7 linked regions of the Homo sapiens genome follow. The protein of the gene in region 5 purifies or fractionates together with the protein of the main gene of each other region. This does not show direct contact. Each region holds a gene or a part of one and is shown on either strand. Other genes may lie near its edges.

Evidence for each region.
Region 1: the proteins of RUVBL2 (region 5) and WDCP purify together in Homo sapiens (affinity purification with mass spectrometry; 7 studies listed by BioGRID and IntAct, with this or other methods). This does not show direct contact.
Region 2: the proteins of RUVBL2 (region 5) and HDAC1 purify together in Homo sapiens (affinity purification with western blotting; 4 studies listed by BioGRID, with this or other methods). This does not show direct contact.
Region 3: the proteins of RUVBL2 (region 5) and DKC1 purify together in Homo sapiens (affinity purification with mass spectrometry; 7 studies listed by BioGRID and IntAct, with this or other methods). This does not show direct contact.
Region 4: the proteins of RUVBL2 (region 5) and ACTL6A purify together in Homo sapiens (affinity purification with mass spectrometry; 11 studies listed by BioGRID and IntAct, with this or other methods). This does not show direct contact.
Region 6: the proteins of RUVBL2 (region 5) and SHQ1 purify together in Homo sapiens (affinity purification with mass spectrometry; 4 studies listed by BioGRID and IntAct, with this or other methods). This does not show direct contact.
Region 7: the proteins of RUVBL2 (region 5) and NOP58 purify together in Homo sapiens (affinity purification with mass spectrometry; 5 studies listed by BioGRID and IntAct, with this or other methods). This does not show direct contact.

The regions. Positions count from the first base shown.
Region 1 is NC_000002.12:24,037,392-24,040,891, reverse strand, and holds part of WDCP (WD repeat and coiled-coil-containing protein), read left to right. Parts: intron 1-1,379; 5' UTR 1,380-1,397; coding exon 1,398-3,215; intron 3,216-3,500.
Region 2 is NC_000001.11:32,295,083-32,298,582, reverse strand, and holds part of HDAC1 (histone deacetylase 1), read right to left. Parts: intron 1-3,500. UniProt on the Homo sapiens protein: Histone deacetylase that catalyzes the deacetylation of lysine residues on the N-terminal part of the core histones (H2A, H2B, H3 and H4).
Region 3 is NC_000023.11:154,775,527-154,778,189, reverse strand, and holds the end of DKC1 (H/ACA ribonucleoprotein complex subunit DKC1), read right to left. Parts: intron 2,004-2,663; coding exon 1,866-2,003; intron 1,392-1,865; coding exon 1,323-1,391; 3' UTR 501-1,322; downstream 1-500.
Region 4 is NC_000003.12:179,565,926-179,569,425, reverse strand, and holds part of ACTL6A (actin-like protein 6A), read right to left. Parts: intron 1-3,500.
Region 5 is NC_000019.10:48,996,887-49,000,386, forward strand, and holds part of RUVBL2 (ruvB-like 2), read left to right. Parts: intron 1-2,432; coding exon 2,433-2,487; intron 2,488-3,500. UniProt on the Homo sapiens protein: Possesses single-stranded DNA-stimulated ATPase and ATP-dependent DNA helicase (5' to 3') activity; hexamerization is thought to be critical for ATP hydrolysis and adjacent subunits in the ring-like structure contribute to the ATPase activity.
Region 6 is NC_000003.12:72,751,612-72,754,445, forward strand, and holds part of SHQ1 (protein SHQ1 homolog), read right to left. Parts: intron 1-2,834. UniProt on the Homo sapiens protein: Required for the quantitative accumulation of H/ACA ribonucleoproteins (RNPs), including telomerase, probably through the stabilization of DKC1, from the time of its synthesis until its association with NOP10, NHP2, and NAF1 at the nascent H/ACA RNA.
Region 7 is NC_000002.12:202,282,763-202,286,262, reverse strand, and holds part of NOP58 (nucleolar protein 58), read right to left. Parts: intron 1,919-3,500; coding exon 1,782-1,918; intron 1-1,781. UniProt on the Homo sapiens protein: Required for the biogenesis of box C/D snoRNAs such as U3, U8 and U14 snoRNAs. Part of the small subunit (SSU) processome, first precursor of the small eukaryotic ribosomal subunit.

The sequences.
Region 1 (3,500 bases), on a different chromosome or scaffold from region 5:
GGCATGCACCACCACACTTGGCTAATTTTGTATTTTTAGTAGAGATGGGGTTTCTGCATGTTGGTCAGGCTGGGATCGAACTCCCAACCTCAGGTGATCCTCCCGTCTCAGCCTCCCAAAGTACTGGGATTATAGGCGTGAGTCACCACGCCCAGCCCTAAGCATATGCTTCTTTAGTGATTCAAATGCCTGGGGGAAAAATATTCAGGGTGAAAAAATGAAGATAATACTTGCCTAACCTACTTTACATTATTTTAAAAGATTATTGTAAGATAAAATGCAATAGGGAATGTGAAAATGTTCTGAAAATTATTAAGTGCTGTTGAATAAGATGAAGTAGAAGTAGAAATAGAAACAGTGATTTTTGAGTGTCATTTCAATAGAGGGATAAAAGCCACTTTGGAAGGATTTGAAATAAGTGCTAATAAAGTCAGAGATGTGCATATCAGTTATTCATTGATTTGGCAGTGAAAGGACGAATAGAAATTAGATGATGGAGGAGACTTTTCTTAAATTTTTAATTGGAAAATTTTCTAACTTAAAAGTTGAAAGTACCATAAATACTAACATAGCCTCAATCTAGACTCTACAATTATTAACATTTTGCTACATTTGTTTTCTTTCTGTGTGTCTATAGAAAATTTGGGTTTTTTTTGTCAAACCATTTGAAAGCACATTGTAGGCATCATGACATTTTACCCCAAGTGCTTCAACATGCTTATTTAAATAATAAGGACCTTGTCCTGCATAACCACAATACCATGTTCACACTTAAGAAAATTAATAACTCTGGCCGGGCGCGGGAGCTCATGCCTATAATCCCAGCACTTTGGGAGGCTGAGGTGGGTGGATTGCCTGAGGTCAGGAGTTTGAGACCAGCCTGGCCAACATAGTGAAACCCCGTCTCTACTAAAAATAAAAAAAAAATTAGCTGGGCCTGGTGGCAGGCACCTGTAATCCCAGCTACTCTGGAGGCTGAGGCAGAAGAATCGCTTGAACCCAGGAGGCAGAGGTTGAAGTGCGCCGAGATTGTGCCATTGCACTTCAGCCTGAGCAACAAGAGTGAGACTCCGTCTCAAAAAAAAAAAGAAGAAAAATAATAACTCTACAATATTTTCTGATATCCATTCCATACTCAGATTTCCCCAGTTCTAAAAATCTTCATTAGGTAGAAGATTTTATTTCTTCAAGATCCAAAGTATATACATTGCATTTGCCTGATAGCTCAGTAGTCTCTTAATTTATAATACTCCCCCTGTCCTTTTGTCTCTCCACATTATTAACCTGGGAAGGGGCTAAGCCGTTGTCTTACCAAATGTCCTACATTCTAGATTTGTCTAGATTTCTCATGGTGTAACTTTCCTTCTTAATCATTTCAGGTAACCTTTATCAAAAGGATGGAGTTGGGAAAAGGAAAACTACTCAGGACTGGACTGAATGCGTTGCATCAAGCAGTGCATCCGATCCATGGCCTTGCCTGGACCGATGGGAATCAAGTTGTCCTAACTGATTTGCGGCTTCACAGTGGAGAGGTCAAGTTTGGGGACTCCAAAGTCATTGGACAGTTTGAATGTGTCTGTGGGTTGTCCTGGGCCCCACCTGTTGCAGATGATACACCTGTTCTACTCGCTGTCCAGCATGAGAAGCATGTCACTGTGTGGCAGCTGTGTCCCAGCCCTATGGAGTCAAGCAAATGGCTGACGTCTCAGACTTGTGAGATTAGAGGATCACTACCTATCCTTCCCCAGGGCTGTGTGTGGCACCCAAAATGTGCTATTCTGACTGTGTTGACTGCTCAGGATGTCTCCATTTTCCCTAATGTTCACTCTGATGATTCCCAGGTAAAGGCAGACATCAACACCCAGGGCCGCATTCACTGTGCATGTTGGACCCAGGATGGCCTGAGGCTGGTGGTGGCAGTAGGCAGCAGCCTGCATTCTTATATTTGGGACAGCGCTCAGAAGACTCTTCACAGGTGCTCCTCCTGCCTGGTGTTTGATGTGGACAGCCACGTCTGCTCCATCACAGCAACTGTGGACTCACAGGTTGCTATAGCTACTGAGCTTCCATTGGATAAGATCTGTGGCTTAAATGCATCTGAAACCTTTAATATCCCACCTAACAGTAAAGACATGACTCCGTATGCTTTACCAGTTATTGGTGAAGTACGCTCTATGGATAAAGAGGCAACTGATTCTGAAACAAATTCTGAAGTATCAGTTTCTTCTTCCTATTTAGAACCTCTGGATCTAACTCACATACATTTCAATCAACATAAGTCTGAGGGTAATTCTCTTATTTGTCTAAGAAAAAAGGACTACTTGACAGGAACTGGCCAAGATTCTTCACATTTGGTCCTTGTGACCTTTAAGAAGGCAGTTACCATGACGAGAAAAGTCACTATTCCAGGCATTCTGGTTCCTGATCTGATAGCATTTAATCTTAAAGCCCACGTAGTGGCAGTGGCTTCCAACACTTGTAATATAATTTTGATCTACTCTGTCATTCCATCTTCAGTCCCAAACATCCAGCAAATTCGATTAGAGAACACTGAAAGACCAAAAGGGATATGTTTCTTGACAGACCAACTATTACTAATTTTGGTAGGAAAACAAAAACTCACTGATACAACATTTCTTCCTTCTTCAAAGTCTGATCAGTATGCCATTAGCTTGATTGTTAGAGAAATAATGTTGGAAGAAGAACCTTCAATAACATCAGGTGAAAGCCAGACTACCTACTCTACTTTCAGTGCTCCGTTAAATAAAGCAAATAGAAAAAAGTTAATTGAAAGTCTTTCCCCAGATTTTTGTCACCAAAACAAAGGGCTGTTGCTGACAGTTAATACCAGTAGTCAGAATGGAAGGCCTGGAAGAACACTTATTAAAGAAATCCAGAGTCCTCTGTCTAGTATCTGTGATGGCTCCATAGCTCTAGATGCTGAGCCTGTTACCCAGCCAGCATCGCTGCCCAGACACAGCAGCACACCAGACCACACCAGCACACTGGAGCCTCCTCGTTTGCCTCAAAGAAAGAACTTACAAAGTGAAAAGGAAACTTATCAGCTGTCTAAGGAAGTGGAAATTTTATCTAGGAACCTGGTTGAAATGCAACGGTGTCTTTCTGAACTTACAAACCGTCTGCATAATGGGAAGAAATCCTCTTCAGTGTATCCACTCTCTCAAGATCTTCCTTATGTTCACATCATTTACCAGGTAAATTCTCCTTTGAGGAACTACCACTATACATAAAAGCTCCTGCAGCCGGTGAGTACTGCAAGAAACGTATTGATGAGGAAGATGGTGCTCTAACTGAGCTTCACTAAGCTGGGCATGTTATGTTACAGGCAAGTTGGTACACCTTTGCAGGTTGGTTGGTTTTTAGCCTGCCAACCAGATAGGCGCACATATCAGTCTGCATCATGATTTTATCAGGTGCATGACGTGGAAAAATAAATGTCTGCACTAATTCGGGCAATTTATATTTAGAAAAAAAATCAT
Region 2 (3,500 bases), on a different chromosome or scaffold from region 5:
CAAATCTGAATCCCAAAGTAATGACCTCACTGCAAAACTCAGTTTCTCAAGTAAGAAGTCTATTCCCGGCTGGGCCTAGTGGCTCACGCCTGTAATCCCAGCACTTTGGGCCGAGGCGGGTGGATCATGAGGTAAGGAGATCAAGAACATCCTGGCTAACACGGTGAAACCCGTCTCTACTAAAAATACAAAAAATGGCCGGGCGCGGTGCCTGACGCCTGTAATCCCAACACTTTGGGAGGCCGAGGCAGGCGATCATCTGAGGTCGAGAGTTCAAGACCAGCCTGACCAACATGGAGAAACCCCGTCTCTACTAAAAATACAAAATTAGCCGGGCGTGGTGGCATATGCCTGTAATCCCAGCTACTCAGGAAGGCTGAGGCAGGAGAATCGCTTAAACCTGGGAGGCGGAGGTTGCAGTGAGTTGAGATTGCGCCACTGCGCTCCAGCCTGGGCAACAAGAGCAAAACTTGGTCTCAAAAAAAAAAAAAAAAGGCCGGGCGCGCTGGCTCACGCCTGTAATCCCACCACTTTGGGAGGCCGAGGCGGGCGAATCACAAGGTCAGGAGATGGAGACCATCCTGGCTAACACGGTGAAACCCCGTCTCTACTAAAAATACAAAAAATTGGCCAGGTGTGGTGGTAGGCGCCTGTAGTACCAGTTACTCGGGAGGCTGAGGCAGGAGAATGGCGTGAACCTGGGAGGTGGAGGTTGCAGTGAGCCGAGATCGCGCCACTGCGCTCCAGCCTGGGTGAAAGAGCAAGACTCCATCTCAAAAAAAAAAAAAAAAAAAAAAAAAAAAAATTAGCCAGGCGTAGTGTCATGCGCCTCCAGTCCCAGCTCCTCGGGAGGCTGAGGCAGGAGAATGGCATGAACCCTGGAGGCAGAGCTTGCAGTGAGCCGAGATGGCGCCACTGCACTCCAGCCTGGGCGACAGAGCAAGACTCCGTCCCCCCCGCAAAAAAAGAAGTCTATTCCCTTATCTAAAGACTGAGGTCTTTGTACTTTTTCTTTTTCTTTTTTTGAGGCAGGGTCTTGCTTTGTCACTCAAGCTGAGTGCAGTGGTGCCATTATGGGTCACTGCAGGCTCCACCTGGGCTCAAACCATCCACCTGCCTCAGTCTCCCACCTCAACCTCCCAAGTAGCTGCGATTACAGGCAAGTGCCACCACACCCAGCTTATTTTTTTGTGTTGTTTTGTAGAGCTGGGGGAGGTCTCATTTTGTTGCCCAGGCTGGTCTTGAACGCCTGGTCTCAAGTGATCCTTCCGCCTTGGCCTCCCAAACTACTGGGATTACAGGCGTGAACCACCATGCCCAGCCCATTTTTTTCTTCTTTTAAACTGACAATGTTATCATAAAATGTTATCATAAAACTGTGCAAAATGATATGACTACAAAAATCACAGGTTCCAGCCTCAAAATGATTCTTATCACTGCCAGCAATCCTTCCAAATTTCTTTCCCTAGCCCCCCACTTTTGCAAAAGCTATTTAAATCTCCTCTCTTCAAGATTCCTGCTCCACCAACTGCCCTACCCCACCCTCAGGAAAAGGAATATTCTCTTTCCTGATCTTGAGAACTCCCTCAACTTTCTCCTTATCTTCTCCTCTTCAAACTTACCTCCATTTGAACTTTTCCTTGACATTTACCCTCGCATCACAAAGGAATTTGTTGAAGGTTAGTGTCTCTAGCTGGGCTCCGGTTTCCATCTCCCCTGGTCTCCTCAGGAAGCTCCATCACTACTAGTCCCTTTCCTGTATCTTCAGCCTCTCCCTCTCTTCTGGCTATTTTCCATAAGAATTATTTCAATATGCTCAACTTTTAGCCACTACATCTCCATCTCCCTTATCAACAATCCTCTCTCCCTACCTCACACAAGCTTCCCTTTAAAAGGGTTCAACCAGCTGGGCATGATGGCTCACGCCTGTAAACCCAGCACTTTGGGAGGCTGAGGCGGGTAGATGACTTGAGCTCAGGAGTTTGAGACCAGCCTGGGCAACATGGCGAAATCCTGTCTCTAAACAAAAGACAACCGTTTGTCTTCTAAACAAAAAATACAAAAAGGGTGCACACCTGTGGTTCCAGCTACTTGGAAGGCTGAGGTGGGAGGACTGCTTGAGCCTGGGAGGCAGAGGTGGTAGTGAGCCAGGATCATGCCACTGCACTCCAGCCTGAGTGACAGAGTGAGGCCCTGTCTCCAAAAAAAGGGTTCAACCTGATGTCTCCTCTTCAGTTAGCCATCCATGTACTGCAATCTACCACAATCTAGCTTCTGCCCCAGTTGCCGCCAACACTTGCCCAATCCCTCCCTTCTTTAGCTTCTGCAACCCAGTACTTTCTGGTTCACCTACCTCTCCGGCCCCTCACTCTCTATCATTATACATTTAATCAACAAATATTTATTGAGAACCTACCATGAGCTAGGCATTGTTTTTGGTGCTGGGGATACAGAGGTAGACAAGGCACGGCCCCTTTCCCTAAAGAGCCTCCTCTCTACAAGAAATATGACCAAGTAAATGGGCAATTCCTCTACACAGTGACAAATACTATCACGGGGGAGTACACAGCATGAGGGGCACTAAACTTTTCCTCAATCCACTTCCTTAGAATTCCACCCTGGAATTCTATATAACTTATTGGGTGACTGCATCCTTTATGACTAAATTTACTACAATTAAAATTGCTAGCAGCCAGGAATGGTGGGTCATGCCTATAATCCCAACACTTTGGGAGGCTGAGCCCAGGACTTCAAGGCCAGCCTGGACAACATGGCAAGACAACATCTCTACAACAAACAAACAAACAAACAAACAAATAAAATAACTATCCATATGCTGATTGTTATGGTCTGAATGTGTCCCCCAAAATTCATGTGTTGGAAACATATTCCCCAATGCCAACAGTGTTTGGAAGTGGAGCCTTTTGGGAGGTGTTTAGGTCTCAAGGGCTCTACCATCCTCACTAATACATTAATGGCCATATAAAAAAACAGAGTTTATCCTTTTTTGCCTTTCCACCTTCTGTCATATGAAAACACTGAATTCAAAGCACCATATTGGAAGTAGAGACCAGACCCTCACCAGACACCAAATGCTGGCACCCTGATCTTGGACTTTCTAGCCTTGGACTTCTCAGCCTCCAGAACTATGAGAAATACATTTATGTTCTTTTTTTTTTTTTGACACAAGGTCTCACTCTGTCCCCCAGGCTGGAGTGCACTGGTGCGATCATGGCTCACTGCAGAGTCGACCTCCCAGGATCAAGTGATCCTCCCACTTCAGCCTCTCTACAGGCACATGCCATCATGCCCAGCTAATTTTTTTACTTTTTGTAGAGACAGAGTCTCCCTAAGTTGCCCAGGCTGGTCTCAAACTCCTGGGCTCAAGAGAACCATCCGCCCCAGCCTACCAAAGTACTGGGATTATAGGCGTGAGCCACCACATTCAGCAATTTCTGTTCTTTATAAACAGTGTTCTGTTATAGCAGACTAAGATACTG
Region 3 (2,663 bases), on a different chromosome or scaffold from region 5:
CTCAGCCTCCCGAGTAGCTGGGATTACAGGCACACGCCACCACACCTGGCTAATTTTTGTATTTGTAGTAGAGATGGGTTTTGCCATGTTGGCCCAGGCTGGTCTCAGACTCCTGACCTCGGGTGATCTGCCCGCCTCAGCCTCCCAAAGCACTGGGATTATAGGTGTGAGCCATTGCACCCGGCCTCTTTCTTGGTTCTTAATACCAAATCGGAAGCAACCCTAGACCTTTCTTCCACTAATCTGTCACCAAGGCCTTCAGATTCCTGCATGTCCCCACCCTCAGCTTCGTTCTCCCGACTCACCCTGCCCCCCGCTCCTGCCAGGCCCACTATGTATAAATACATTAACCCTCTCCTTCTCTGTTCTTCTAGAGATCAGTGGTTTTGTGGTAATCACTGCCTCTGAGTACTTGATCTCACATCAGATGACAGGGCCCAAGGTGGATTGTGTAAGATACAGAACAAAAATGTAAAAACCAGAAAACAAACATAAAAGCATCACATTTCAAATAGGACATAAAGGTCCCTAGATTTTTAATCAAAATATTTTACAATTTTTGCTCTGCTAGCATGAGATCAACAAGAAAACCCAACAGGAATACATAAAAAACTTAACAAGTTGACTTTAATAAGTAAAAATTACAACATTCTTCTCCCAGCAATGAACAATTTCATTTTTTAAAAGTAAACGAGGCCTAAAACAAGAGGGCACAGGAACAAGTAGTCAGATGGATTTAGGTGAGCACTGTACACAAGCTTTGAGGAAGTGCAAAGGACTGACCTCTAGGCCAGAACAAGATGGAAAACTACCAGGCCCATCAGGCCTATAACCCAGACACCAGCATGGACAAAACTCAGTTATACTGAATTCAGAGACAAAATTCAGTGACACTCTTCTACCACTTATTTAGGGTTCTACAGCATTTCACTGAGCAGACTTAGTTTTTTGTTTTTGTTTTACAAACCTTTTAAACAGAGGGGATTTAAAAAATGCAAACTAGGACTACGATGTTAAGACAACCACTAGCAGACAGCTGCGGACAGTTACTGGGTCTGAAGGTGAGGCTTCCCAACTCAAACAGAGAAGTCATTGGGATAAACTCTGCCTCTTTCATCTTTCACCACCCATATCCTTAAAACAGGACAAGATGGGATGACCACACCAGGTAACATCACCGAGGTCTCAAAGTAGCAGCTAAAATGTGCCAGAACTCTTCACCCTGTCTAGGACCTATGTTCCACTCTCTCAGCAACAAAAGGATCTATAACATGTTTTCTCAATAAGGCTTTAGTTTCTCCTCCAGCTTCAAGTGGCCTTCACTACTCAGAAACCAATTCTACCTCTTTTGCTTTCTTCTTCTTCTTCTTCTTCTTGGTGGTATCACTGTCCTAGAAAGAAAGAGAATGAAAGCTCACAGATACCATCCACTAACAAAGCTATGACTCTCCCAGAAGGAAATCTGGTAAAGGTCCACAGTCAAGCAAGCCTTTTTCAGGACCTGTAAGGATATTTTGGGTTAAATGCTGCATGTGACACAAAGTTCTGTAAACCTTTCAGTGACACCCTAGTGGTCTACTTTTGGAAGTGGAAACATTCAGATCACCATCCTACACATCCTCTCCACCCACCATCAATAGAGCTCTAAGTATAAGTGGTAGAGGTCGGGTGCCTCTATCTGTCCATTCCACAGGGAGGGCAAAAGCACTCCAGGAACATGGGGAAGCACTAAAGGCACTCGGTGGCATCCCACCCCCAGGCCACAGCTCCTCCAAGAAGAGTAACAAAGCTGGTACCACCTGGGTAATTCTTTCCCCACGCAGGGACTAAGCCAGCCCAAGGAACCTGAACGTGTTTCCACACACCCCATCTCCAGGCTCGGCCCCGCTCTCCAGACCAGCTTTGGCCTTCTTGTCCTTCTTACTCTTCTTCTTTTCCTTCTTGATCAACTGAGGAGCTGCTGGAGGAGTCTCGTCACTTTCACTCTCACTCTCTCGCTTCCGCTGAGATGAAAGCAATTGGTTAAGTGTTAGATCTTGGGCAATAATGGACAAGAAAGGTTCAGTGAGTCAAAAGGTAGCAAGGCACCAAGAAAGATCCCAACTGAATCTAACAGGACGTTTTCTGACTACAAACCCGGACAGGGCCTTAGTTTACTGAGGATTTGAAGACAGTCTCATCCCCCAAATCCAAGAAGCCTTGAGGCAGGCACAAGAGAAGGAGCACAGCAGCAGCACGGGGCTTGGGGTGGAAAGGCCCGGAGGAGCTGTTTCTCTCATGACTGCAAGGACCTCTCACAGAAAGCAGGCAAAGCAGGAATTCACATCTGACAAGTCAGAAGCTCCTCCCACACAGCCTGTGCAGGATACTCAGTACCGCCCCCGGTTTCTGAGTGCAGACCTGTCATTCTGTGCTCTAATGCCAGCAGCTCCATGGGGTGGAGTTGCCAACCCATGCTTGACTGACTCTTTCAACACTGGGTGGTGCCAGGTTAAGATGCAATTCTGCTCTCTGCTGAATTTTGTATGGCCTCGAATGTCCAACAGCCATGGCCTCTGATTTCAACACATCTGTCCTACCATTTGACCCAGGGCGGGGGCCAGAATTGACACACACACCACCACCCATTCCATCACTGTGTTGCTGCCATAGCTGAGGTAGGA
Region 4 (3,500 bases), on a different chromosome or scaffold from region 5:
TGGGTAATTTCAGTTTACTTATTAAAGGGAATTATTTGCAAAGATATAGGTGAAATACAGGACAACCAGAAGGGACAGTACAGTACCCCAGTACTATAATGATAACTAATAATAATGGATCCATTGCCATTCTTCAAACTGAAGAAACAAGAAGAAATAACTGTTATCAGAATCTGGAGAGAAAGTTGTATGGGGAGGGCTACCTGACAGGAGCTGTGACTTTTAGTAGAGGGGATGCAGTTAGCCATGGATTACCCTGAGGTGAATGAACCAGGCTAATAAATATACCAGCAACCTCCCTCCACCATCAACTAGGGTGATTCTATAATTTATTGTCCAAAGTGGGACAACCACTATGGGCAATTTAGTCATATCTATTAAAGTTGAAATTGTGCATACATAGAATTACACTTACTTATTCTGGAGACACTCTCTCATACAGGTTGCAAGGAGACATGCAAAAGAATGTTCAACAGCTACAAGAACTGAGCAATTTATTAACCTCTCTGCTTCAGTTTCCTAATATGTAAAATGTACATAATAGCTCTTATCTCACAGGATACTCTAATGATTAAACATGTTAAGTGCTTTCATGTATATGAAGTCTTAGAAAATACACATGCTAAGTGTAAGCTGCTATTATAATTGACACACTGCTTGCCATAGGAAAAGGCAGAAATAATCTAATGGTCTCTCAGCAGGGAAATAGATAAGCAATAATATATTCACACAATGGAATCCTGTACAGCAGTTCAAATGAACACTTTAGATCTACATATGTCAGCATCAATAAATCTAAAAGAATGCTTAGTTTTAAAAGCTAGTTATCAAAAAACCATATGTATACACATACATATATACACATATACACACACACACACGTCTCAAAAAAAAAAAAGAAAATATGCATGGGGTCTGGGAATGTTACATACCAACTTCAGTTCAGTGGTTACATGAACTGAAGAAGGGAGAGAGAGGAAATCTGTATCAATAACATTTTTATTCTTAAAATATCTGAGGTATTAATATGGCAAAATATGACATCTATTTAATCTCACTGGTGAATGCAGTATTGTATTACATACAAACTTACAGGTGATTACAGTAATATCACATACAAACTTACATATTTTTAATATGTTTAAAATATTTCAAAAACTTAAAATTTTTAAAATCAAACCCATTACTTTGCAAGTATCAGTTAAGAGACAGTAGCTTTGCAGAATGATCTCTTTTTTTTTTTTTTTTTTTGACACGGAGTCTTGCTGTATTGCTGCCCAGGCTGGAGTGCAGTGGCGTGATCTCGGCTCACTGCAACCTCTACCTCCCAGGTTCAACAGATTTTCCTGCCTCAGCCTCCTGAGCAGCTGGGACTACAGACGCGCACCACCATGCCCAGCTAATTTTTGTATTTTTAGTAGAGATGGGGTTTCACCATATTGGCCAGGCTGGTCTCAAACTCCTGACCTCGTGATCCACCCGCCTTGGCCTCTCAAAGTGCTGGGATTATAGGTGTTAGCCACCGCGCCCAGCCTCTCATTTTTATTCAAATAAAACAGAGACATATTTTAATTTCTAATATAAAAGAAAGTTTACGTATTTGTTACATTTCTCAAGATAATTAACCCTTCCCTGTGAAATTCTCTGGTCCAAATTATTTTGTCAGAAACTAGGGGGTCCTTAAAAGGAGAACACTGTATTTGTTTTCACCACAGCACCTAAACTTGAGTACAAATCGTAAGTATAGCAATGAATATGAGTTGGTAAAATTTAATACTTTTATTAACCAGAATGCTGGGTAAAGAGATATCCTAATTAAATGAATTAATTGTATAGTTAACCAAAAATTTCAACTTCTGTTCCTCAAGGATTTATCTTTTGCCCTGCGCCAGGAGCCCTTAACCTGTTCTGTGTTATGGACCCTTATGACAGTGTTGTGGACTGAATTGTGTCGCCCTAAAATTCATATGTCAAAATCCTAACCCCTAGTACCTCAGAATGTGACTGTACTTGAAACCAGAGTCTTTATTCTTTATTTATTTATTTATTTTTATGTTTTGAGACAGAGTTTCACTCCTGTCGCCCAGGCTGGGGTGCAATGGCACAATCTCAGCTCATTGCAACCTCCACCTCCGGGGTTCAAGTGATTCTTCTGCCTCAGCCTCCTGAGTAGCTGGGATTACATCTGCTGGCCACCAAGCCCGGCTAGGTTTTATATTTTTAGTAGACATGGGGTTTCACCATGTTGGCCAGGCTGGTCTCAAACTCCACACCTCAGGTGATCCACTCGCCTTGCCCTCCCAAAGTGCTAGGATTATAGACGTGAGCTACCATGCCCGGTGAAACCAGAATCTTTGAAGAAGTAATTAAGTTAAAATGAAATCATTAGATTGGGTCCTAATCCAGTATGAGTGATGTTTTTAAGAGAAAATTCAGGCAGGGCGCGCGGTGGCTCACACCTGTAAGCCCAACACTTTGGGAGGCAGAGGCGGGCAGATTACGAGGTCAGGAGATCAAGACCATCCTGGCCAACATGGTGAAACCCCAACTCTACCCAAAATACAAAAAATTAGCCGGGCGTGGCCGTATGCACCTGTAGTCCTAGCTACTCTGGAGGCCGAGGCAGGAGAATTGCTTGAACCCGGCAGGCGGAGGCTGCAACGAGCTGAGATCGTGCTACTGCACTCCAGCCTGGGTGACAGAGCAAGTCTCAGTCTCAAAAACAACAACAACAACAACAACAACAAAAAGAGAAAATTCAGACTTGGACTTGTACAGAGGGACGGCCATGTGAAGACAGAGGAGGAGATGGCCATCTACACACAGAGACAGACCTCAGAAGAAACCAACTCTGCTGACACTTAGATCTACCTCTATCCTCTAGAATTGTGAGAAAACTAATTTCTGTTGTTTAAGCCACACAGACTGTGGTACTTTATTATGGCAGCCCTACAAACTAATACAGTTTAGGAAATTATGAATCCCTTCTTAGAATGTTTTTAAATGTTTATAAAAGAAGCCAATTATAATAAAATATAGTTCTACCATGGAAACTTTGGGAAGGCCACAAACCCTATGTTAGGAGCTCCTTCCCTAATTTACCCTTTCCTGGGTAATATATTCTACTCCTATAGCTTCAACTTCTACCTAAATACTGATAATTCCAATTTCAAATCTCTCTCTCTCTCAAGCTCTAACCAGTGTCTACATCCATATCCTGAACTTTTCACTGTACATCAACATAATTGCATCTGATGCCTCATGGGTATCTCAAATTCAACACATCTGAAGCACTGCTGATCTCAGCATTGCCTAACACATTGCTGACCACCAGTCCACACTGGCAAAAATCTGAGAGTTTTTGTGAACACCTCCATCTTTCAAGTTCTGCCAAATATTTCTGCTAAGTATTTCTCAAATCCCCTCCTTTTTAATACCATTGCCACTGCCTTCAATCGAGCTCTTATCTCAACCGGGAAACTACAATTCCCTACAGATAT
Region 5 (3,500 bases):
CCCTGACCTCAAGTGATTTGCCTGCTTCAGCCTCCCAAAGTGCTGGTATTACAGGTGGGAGCCACTACGCCCAGCCTGTTGTTTTTTTTTTTTCTTAATAGCTTTATTGAGATAGAATTCACGTACTACATAATTCACCCATTTAAAGTATACAGCTCAGTGTTTTCTAGTATATTCACAGACTTGTGCAGCCATTTCCACAGTCAATTTTAGAACATTGTCGTCACCCCAAAAAGAAACCCCATGCCTCTTACCTGTCACCGCTAATCCTTCCATACCTCCCATCTTCAGTTCTAGGCAGCCACTAATCTTTCTCTGTATATGGATTTGCCTATTGTGGCTACTTCATATAGATGGAATCATACCATATGTGTCTTTCGTGTGTGGCTTCTTTCAGTCAGTATAATGTTTTCAAAGTTCATCCACGTTGTAGCATGTATCAGAACTCCATTCCTGGCCGGGCGCGGTGGCTCACGCCTATAACCCCAACGCTTTGGGGTGCCAAGGCAGGTGGATCACCTGAGGTCAGGAGTTCAAGACCAGCCTGGCCAACATGGTGAAACCCCATCTCTACTAAAAAATACAAAAAAATATTAGCCAGGTGTGGTGGCGGACACCTGTAATCCCAGCTACTCGGGAGGCTGAGGCAGAAGAATCACTTGAACCCAGGAAGCAGAGGTTGTAGTGAGCCAAGATTGCGCCATTGCACTCCAGCCTAGGTGACAGAGTGAGACTATGTCTCAAAAAAAAAAAAAAAAGAAAAGAAAAAAGAACTCCATTCCTTTTTATGACTGAATAATATTCCTTTGCACAAATAGACCCTGTTTTATTTTGCCATTCATCAGCTGATGGACATGTGGGTTGTTTCTATCTTTTGGCTGTTGTGAATAGTGCTGCCGTGAACACTCGTGTCCATGTTTTGTGTGGACCTCTGGGGGGGTCCTGAATTGTCCCGGGTGGTGTTTACTCACCTCCCTCCCCCATGTGAGAAGGGGTGGTAGCTGGCTCCTCTCTGTGGAGAACTGTCAACATGGGAAGCCTCGGTATATTCTTGTTGAATGAGCTCAGCACTTTAGAGTATCACTTAGCAAACCACAGACATTGAGTCCCGAGGTGAACAAGAGAGAACAGGCCGTGCCCTTCATGGGACTCATGTCCACTGGAGCAGAGAATATTGATCCATCCATCTCCCTCGGGAATGTGAGATCACACAGGGAGATCGGGCTCCCAGGGAGGCCTTTCATCTGTCTGAATGTCTAGAGGTCCTAGAACTAGCCTGGCAGGGCTGTTGGACAGAAAGGGCCTCCCCTAGGGGGCAGCACTTGATCTAATTCAGTGAGAGGGCAGGGAGAGCAGTCTGGACTCAGGGGCCAGCATGTGCAAGGCCTGGTGGTTGAGAACTGGGGCCGCCTGGTACAAGGGATGCTGGGAAATTAGCAGGGGCCAGAGCATGTCCAGCTCCATGCCTGCTCCTCATTGGTGTCTGTCCTTATGGAGCTCACAGTTATTAGAAATGGGGAGGACTTGTCTGGGCACGGTGGTTCACACCTGTAATCCCAGCACTTTGGGAGGCCTTGGTGGGCAGATCACTTGAGGTCAGGAGTTCGAGACCAGCCTGGCCAACCCCAGTAGAGATGGGCGAAACCCCATCTCTATTAAAAATACAAAAAAAATTAGCCAAGTGTGGTGGTGTGCGCCTGTAGTCCCAGCTACTCAGGAGGCTGAGGCGGGAGAATCGGTTAAACCCAGGAGGCGGAGGTTGCAATGAGCTGAGATCGGGCCACTGCACTCCAACCTGGGCGACAGAGCAGACTCCGTCTCAAAAAATAAGAAAAAAAAAAAAGAAATGGGGAGGACTTAGCCGGGCACAGTGGCTCACGCCCATAATCCCAGCACTCTGGGAGGCCAAGGCTGGTGTATCACTTGAGGCCAGGAGTTTGAGACCAGCCTGGCCAACATGGCAAAACCCCATCTCTACTAAAAATACAAAAATTAGCCGGGTGTGTTGATGCGCGCCTGTAATCCCAGCTAGTCAGGAGGCTGAGGCAGAGAATTTCTTGAACCCAGGAGGCGGAGGTTGCAGTGAGCCGAGATTGGGCCACTGCACTCCAGCCTGGGTGACAGAGCGAGACTTCATCTCAAAAAAAAAAAAAGAAACAGGGAGGATTTCATTCATTCACCAAATAACCAAATATGTGCTGGACCCTGAGGACCAAGCTGTCGATGAGACAGACAGTCCTTGTCTTCCTGGGGCTCAACCAACCAGCCATTAGGCAGTGACAGGCAAGAGGGGTGGGGGTGACTGGTGCCTGTCCCATCGCCTGCCTGTGAGGGGAAGGAGTGGAAAGGACCATCTCATGGGAGGGACAGAGGAGGGGTTGGTGAAAGCTGGGACCACACTAGTCCTCTGACACATCTTCTTGCACCCCCAGACAGCCACAACCAAAGTCCCGGAGATCCGTGATGTAACAAGGATTGAGCGAATCGGTGAGTGAGTTGGGTCAGGAATAGGACCTAAGCCCTGCCTGCCATGTGCCCTGACAGAGCAAACCTATTGAGGACCCCTAAGATGGAGAGGGAGGTGGCCTGCACACCAACTGTGCCCCCACTACCATTCCCCCACTCGCCCTATCTAATGGGGGAGGAGGATCCTCAGTTCCAGAGTTGGGTCAGATGATGCACTGGGGACCAGGCTGCTATCCTGGCTATCCTGGTGGGGTTCCCGGGTATGTTTGCCTGGAAGTCATAGATATTTACTGGGTGCTTTACTGGGTTTGGCCTCGTATACCCAGTACACACTGTGGGGTGAGTTCCCTGAGGGCAGGGACGAGGTCGTGTCATTCCTAGCTGTGTCCCTAGCACAGGACCTAACAGAGCAGATGATCAAGAGATAACCATTGAATGCACGAGTTTGCGTCCTGTGGAGCCCTCGCAGTAGCCGCATGAGGTGCATATTGTAACTGTTAGCTGAGGGAACTGATTTTCAGGACAGCTAAATCACTGGCCCCGGCTCACACAGAGCAGGAAGTTGAGACGCAGTGAGGCCAGCAGGGTGCGCTCTCACAAAGAGCTTTACCGGCAGGGAAGTGACCGCATTCATTCATGCAGCAGGCTCACTGATTCAGGGCATCCGAGAAAGGCAGTAAGGGCTTCTGGCTGTGAAGATGGGTTTTAGAAGCCCAGTGCTGGATTCCTGGAGCTTAGCTCTGCCACTTTCCCACCATGTGGCCAGGGACTAGTTCCTCTCTGTGCCTCAGTTTCCTTATCTGCAAGACGAAGCTAAGATAGTTTACCTCATCAGTTAATGTAAGATTCAGTAAGGTAGTTCATATAAAGCATTTTGGGTCTGTGTGCCAACACTGTTTCATCTATTAAAAGTGCTGGGGCACTGGGTGCAGTGGCTCATGCCTGTAATTCCAGCACTTTGGAAGGCCAAGGTGGGCGGATCACCTGAGGTCAGGAATTTGAGACCAGCCTGGCCAACATGGTGAAACCTCGTC
Region 6 (2,834 bases), on a different chromosome or scaffold from region 5:
CAGAAGATACAAGCAGACAATTTTCAAAAAAGGAAATATAAGTAACTCTTAAATATATTAGATGTTCAACTCCAGTCAAATAAGAGACATACAAATTAAAGTCATATGTCAGATATATTTTTTATTGGCAAATACCCAAACATTTGATATTATTCTGTTAACAAGACTGCAGGAGAAAAGGCACTTTCATATACTGATGCAGGGAGATTAAATAGCTACAATCCCCATGAAGGAGAACTTGGCAATAACTTTCAAAATGGAAAATGTATATACCCTGGACCCAGCAAGCCCCATGTCTGAATAACTTTCAAAATGGAAAATGTATATACCCTGGACCCAGAAAGCCCCATGTCTGAAAATTAAACACATGTAGTAAACCTATGTCATGTATGACATAGGTCTGAGGTTATTTACTATGACATCGTTTTTTAATACCTAAAAATGGGAAACAGCCAAATGTCCTTGTTATAAGACTGGTTGACTGGTGAAATAAGTTATGACATATCCATACAACGGAATAGCCTACAGCTGTACAATGAATGAAGCTCTCCATGGGCCAATCCAGACTTACTGCTTAGCAACACAAAAGGCTCACCATATGTATATGCTACATATATATAAAAAGGGAAAATAACAGGAAAGATATCAAAACAGATATTTCTATTTGCTTGTATACTTCTTAATAAACTCTCCAAAGTCACAGAAAACAGTAACTTCTGTAAAGGAGATAAGGTGGGAACTGGAAATATGGGGGATGACACAGGATGATGGCGTGACGGAGCCTTTTCACTGCCTATTGTTTTATTTTTTAAACCTATATAAATGTTCATAATCTTAAAATGTACAAGGAGGAAAAGCAATATCAGCAGCATGGAGTGCTTTTTCTTTTTATGAGAAAACCATTTCATATTATTTCAGAAGATTTTTTTTTTTTGAGACAGAGTCTCACTGTGTCGCCAGGCTGGAGTGCAGTGGTGTGATCTCGGCTCACTGCAACCTCCGCCTCCCAGGTTCAAGTGATTCTCCTGCCTCAGCATCCCGAGTAGCTTGGACTACAGGCGCGTACCACCATGCCCAGCTAATTTTTTTGTATTTTTAGTAGAGACAGGGTTTCACCATGTTGGCCAGGATGGTCTTCATCTCCTGACCTCGTGATCTGCCAGCCTCGGCCTCCCAAAGTGCTGGGATTACAGGCATGAGTCACCAGGCCCAGCTAATTTTTTTTGTATTTTTAGTAGAGATGAGGTTTCACCATGTTGGCCGAGATGGTCTTGATCTCCTGACCTCGTGATCCACCTACCTCGGCCTCCCAAAGTGCTGGGATTACAGGCGTGAGCCACCATGACCAGCCGAAGACGCTTTTCCTCTAAATTACCTGCTAGATTTATAATATTACATTGTATCGAGTAAATAAACTTTTCCATTATTAACTTGGATGCATTTAGTTGTTTTTTGTTTCTAAAAGAACCAACATGACACAAACTGGCATTCTCCAAAGATGACTACTATTCTTAAGGGGAAATCTGATGTGACAACTGAAGAAAGGTGACAGTGAGTGAAAGTGGTAAACATGCTGACATGGTTTCTATGTTTCCCTGACTCCAAAGATTAAATGAACATACAAAACATTGAGTGGCTTTGAGACAAACTGGATGACGGTGAGTTTACAAGATAAATTCATTTGTAAAAGTATAGTCCATCCCATAATATCAGGAAAATGAGGCTTCATTTCAGTGGAGCTGATGGTACAATGGGAAATACCGAACAAAGATGGTATTTTAATCTGGGTGCCTGCATGTACCTGAAATGCTATTTCTCAAAGTACTCAGCACAATAATGAGATTGTGCAGGGATTGCCCCCCACCCCCCACAACCCCTGCTGCCTCTTCACATGTGTAATCAGGCCACAGAAGCACCACTGCAGTGTCCAAGGGTGAGCGGGAGGCACAGTGCGGTGAGTGGGACAAGGGCAGTCACCATCGTTGATGGGTAGCTTTCTCTTAGCCCTGGGTTTCAGTGCCAGAACTTCCAGAGCGCTTAGAGAAAGGGAGGGGTTTAGGGTAAAGAGGAAAACCAAGGTGAGATCCACTAGAGTCAGTTAATGATTCACCAAAGCATTATAACCCCTGGCTAATCTTTTATCAGTCTGAGGCATTTTTAAAAGCATAGCTATGGAATATGACGGCTGCAACATAATTTGCATTTATACCCAAGACAGTTGTAGATAATGTCCACCATATATTTTGAAACCTTGACTACCAGTGGTAAAGGATTCAGTCTGAGCTGCTGCAAAGTTCAGTCAAAGAACTAGTACACCACTCTGTTTCTCCATGAAGGGGAGTTCTCTCTGGGTAGTGACACACAACTTAAGAAATAAAGAGTAATAAATTTGGGAAAGTGGATACTGCCTCTAACTCTAATACTAGAAATAAAAAATATAAAATAAAAGCTTTTACTTTACTGACTATATATCTCATTTTAATTGTCATGACAAATACTTCTCAACAATATACAAAGGATGATGCTCCACTAACATCACTGCACTTGCTCCATTAACCACCTTGTGAATCAGTGCCATTGTTATCCCTACATTACAGATGAGGGAACTAGAGCTTGCAGGGGTAGGAGAGCCGCTGAGGTTCACTCAGCCAACAAGGGGCGGTCACGACTGGAAACCCAAGCCTCAAAACTCCAGCCCTCTTCCCGTTCCACCAAAGGGCCTCCCATGAATATACAGGCTCTGCAAAGTGTTCTTCTCTTCTTTTTCTTCTTCTTTTTTTTTTTTTTGAGATGGATTTTCACTCTCGTTGCCCAGGCTGGAGTGCAACAGCACG
Region 7 (3,500 bases), on a different chromosome or scaffold from region 5:
AAAGTGCTGGGATGTATTACAGGCGTGAGCCACTGCGCCTGGCCTATAGTGTTTCTTTCTCCCTTTTTTTTTTTTTTTTTTGAGATGGAGTCTCACTCTGTCACCCAGGCTGGACTGCAGTGGAGCGATCTCCACTCACTGCAAGCTCTGCCTCCCGGGTTCACGCCATTCTCCTGCCTCAGCCTCCCAAGTAGCTGGGACTACAGGCGCCCGCCACTGTGCCCGGCTAATTTTTTGTATTTTTAGTAGAGACGAGGTTTCACCGTGGTCTCGATCTCCTGACCTTGTGATCTGCCTGCCTTGGCCTCCCAAAGTGTTGGGATTACAGGCGTGAGCCACCGTGCCCAGCCTGTAGTGTTTCTTTTAATATTAGCTTAAAATGTCTTTTGAACTGTGGTAATAATTTTATTAGGATTACTATTTGACAGTACTGATTACAAAGTTGCACAGGTTTTGAGCAACTACCTACCATTATTTTCTTCACAACCCTGTTAACTGTAGTGCAATTCCAAAGTATTAAGCTTTTCATGAACAGATGTATCACAACATAGCAATAATGCCTATTCTAAGGGACTTCTAATGAAATATGATAGGGTTAACATGCAATTAAAAATAGGGAGAAGACTGGGCATGGTGGCTCACCCCTGCAGTCGCGGCACTTTGGGAGGCTAAGGCAAGTGGATCACTTGAGCCTGGGAGTTCCAGCCTGGGCAGCATGGCAAAACCCCGTCTCTACAAAAAGTTAAAAAATCAGCCAGGGATGGTGGCGCACACTTGCAGTCCCAGCTACTTGGGAGGCTGAGGTGGCATTGTTTGAGTCCAGGATGTCCAGGTTGCAGTGAGCCAAGATCGCACCACTGCACCCCAGCCTGAGCAACAGAGTGAGACCCTGACTCAAAAAAAAAAAAAAAAAAAAAAAAATGCCGGGTGTGGTGGCTCATGCCTATAATCCCAGCACTTTGGAAGGCCAAGGCGGATGGATCATTTGAGGTCAGGAGTTCAAGATCAGCCAGGCCAACATGGTGAAAGCCCGTCTCTACTAAAAATACAAAAATTAGTTGGGCAGTAGTGGTGCACGCTTGTAATCCTAGCTACTCGGAGGCTGAGGCAAGAAAATCACTTGAGCCTGGGAGGCAGGGGCTGCAGTGAGCAGAGATCACGCCACTGCACTCCAGTCTGGGCGACAGAGTGAGAATCTGCCTCAAAAAAAACAAAACAAAAACAAAACAAACAAAAAAACACAGAGAGAGACATATTTCTTGCTATGTTGCTCAGGCTAGTCTCAAACTCCTGGTCTCCCAAAGAGTTGGGATTACAGGGGTGAGCCACTGCACCTAGTCCTCTTTGCCTTATTAAAAATCAGAGTAAAGCAATGAAAACACAAATACACACCTATCCCATAAGACCATAGCAGATGAGAGAATTTGGGGGAATACTAAGTAGATGGAGGAGTGGCATGACTTAGCAGAGATAAAGGAGGGAAAGCCCAAGAAACAGGGCATCCAAGATCAGAGTAGTAGAGAATTCCTTTGATGAGGTTTTAAGGTTTTAAGAATCCAGACAATAGAGCCAGACTGCCTGGGTTCAAATCCTGGCTTTACCACTTACCAGCTGTATTGACCTTGGGCTTCAGTTTCATCTGTAAATGAGGATATTACTATCATCTTCTTCATAAGGTTCTGATGTGGTTCAAATGAGCATTTGTAACATTCTTAGAACAGATCTATGTTAAGCGCTTATCAAATAAAAGTAAGTTGACTTTATTTTCCAGTAATTCTCACCTGTGAGCCAATCCAAGACACATAGCTGCCATTTCACGTGGTTCTACCCCAGGGATTAATCCATCCATTTGTGAACGAATTCCTCTCATAAGTTCATTAACAACAGGACTATGGATACAACTGAGATTCAGCTTTTCCTACAAGAACATGAACATCTATATTAAATTAAAAAAAAAAAGACTTTCCTGAAGTTGTTATTATTATTTTTTGAGACACAGTATCACTCTGTCGCCCAGGCTGGAGTGCAGTGGCGCAATCTTGGCTCACTACAACCTCCGCCTCCTGGGTTCAAGAGATTCTCCTGTCTCGGCCTGGGATTATTGCAGGCATGAGCCACCATGCCCAGCTAATTTTGTATTTTTAGTAGAGACGGGGTTTCACCATGTTGTACAGGCTGGTCTCAAACTCCTGACCTCAAGTGATCCGCCCGCCTCATCTTCCCAAAGTGCTGGGATTACAGGCATGAGCCACCGCGCCCAGCCTGAAATTATTTCCTAAATATTAAAGTGGCACTAATTTAAATATACGCATTTCTCAGTTGGACAAGAAGCATAATTTCCAGTGTGTTTGTAGAATACTTGACTGTATCACTGGTGGAAGTAAAAACTGATACAAGCTTCCAGAAGACAGCTTGGCTATATAAATTAAAAGCTATAAAAAGATTAATATAATTTGACCAAGTAGTTGGTTTAAGGAGATCTTTTACTACCTGTTATTTAGCTTCTTTTTAAAATTACAGGTTATGCCAGGCGCGGTGGCTCACGCCTGTAATCCCAGCACTTTGGGAGGCCGAGGCGGGTGGATCACAAGGTCAATAGATCGAGACCATCTTGGCCAACATGATGAAACCCCGTCTCTACTAAAAATACAAAAATTAGCCGGGTGTGGTGGCAGGTGCCTATAGTCCCAGCTACTCGGGAGGCTGAGGCAGGAGAATCACTTCAACCCAGGAGGCGGAGGTTGCAGTGAGCCAAGACTGAGCCAATGCACTTCAGCCTAGCGACAGAGTGAGACTCCGTCTTAAAAAAAAAAAAAAATTACAGGTTGGGCGTGGTGGCACATGCCTGTAATCCTAGCACTTTGGGAGGCCAGGGCGTGTTGGCGGGCGTCTGTAATCCCAGCTACTTGGAAGGCTAAGGCAGGGGAATCCCTTGAACCCGGGAGGCAGAGGTTGCAGTGAGCCGAGATCATGCCACTGCACTCTAGCCAGGGCAACAGAGTGAGACTCTGTCTCAAATAAATGAAATAAAATAAAATAAAATAATTAGCCAGCATGGTGGCATGTGCCTGTAGTCCCAGCTACTGAAGAGGGAGGATTGCTTGAGAACAGGAGGTCAAGTCTGCAGTGAGCTGTGAGACTGCGCCACTGCACTCCCAATTAGCTGGGACTACAGGCGCCTGCCACCACACCCGGTTAATTTTCTGTATTTTCAGTAGAGACAGGGTTTCACTGTGTTAGCCAGGATGGTCTCGATCTGCTGACCTCGTGATACTCCTACCTTGGCCTCCCAAAATGCTGGGATTATTATAGGTGTGAGCCACCGCGCCCCGCCCGAATTGTTCTGCTTTCTGTATTTGGGAGGCTATTTTCCTAGTCTTTCTTTCCACTCTCACATTTTATTTCATCTCCAGCAATACACCCCTACTAAAAGTTTTCTAATAAATATATTTCTAAAAAATATAAGGACCCCATTTTCGTTGGAAAAAAATGTGGCTAGA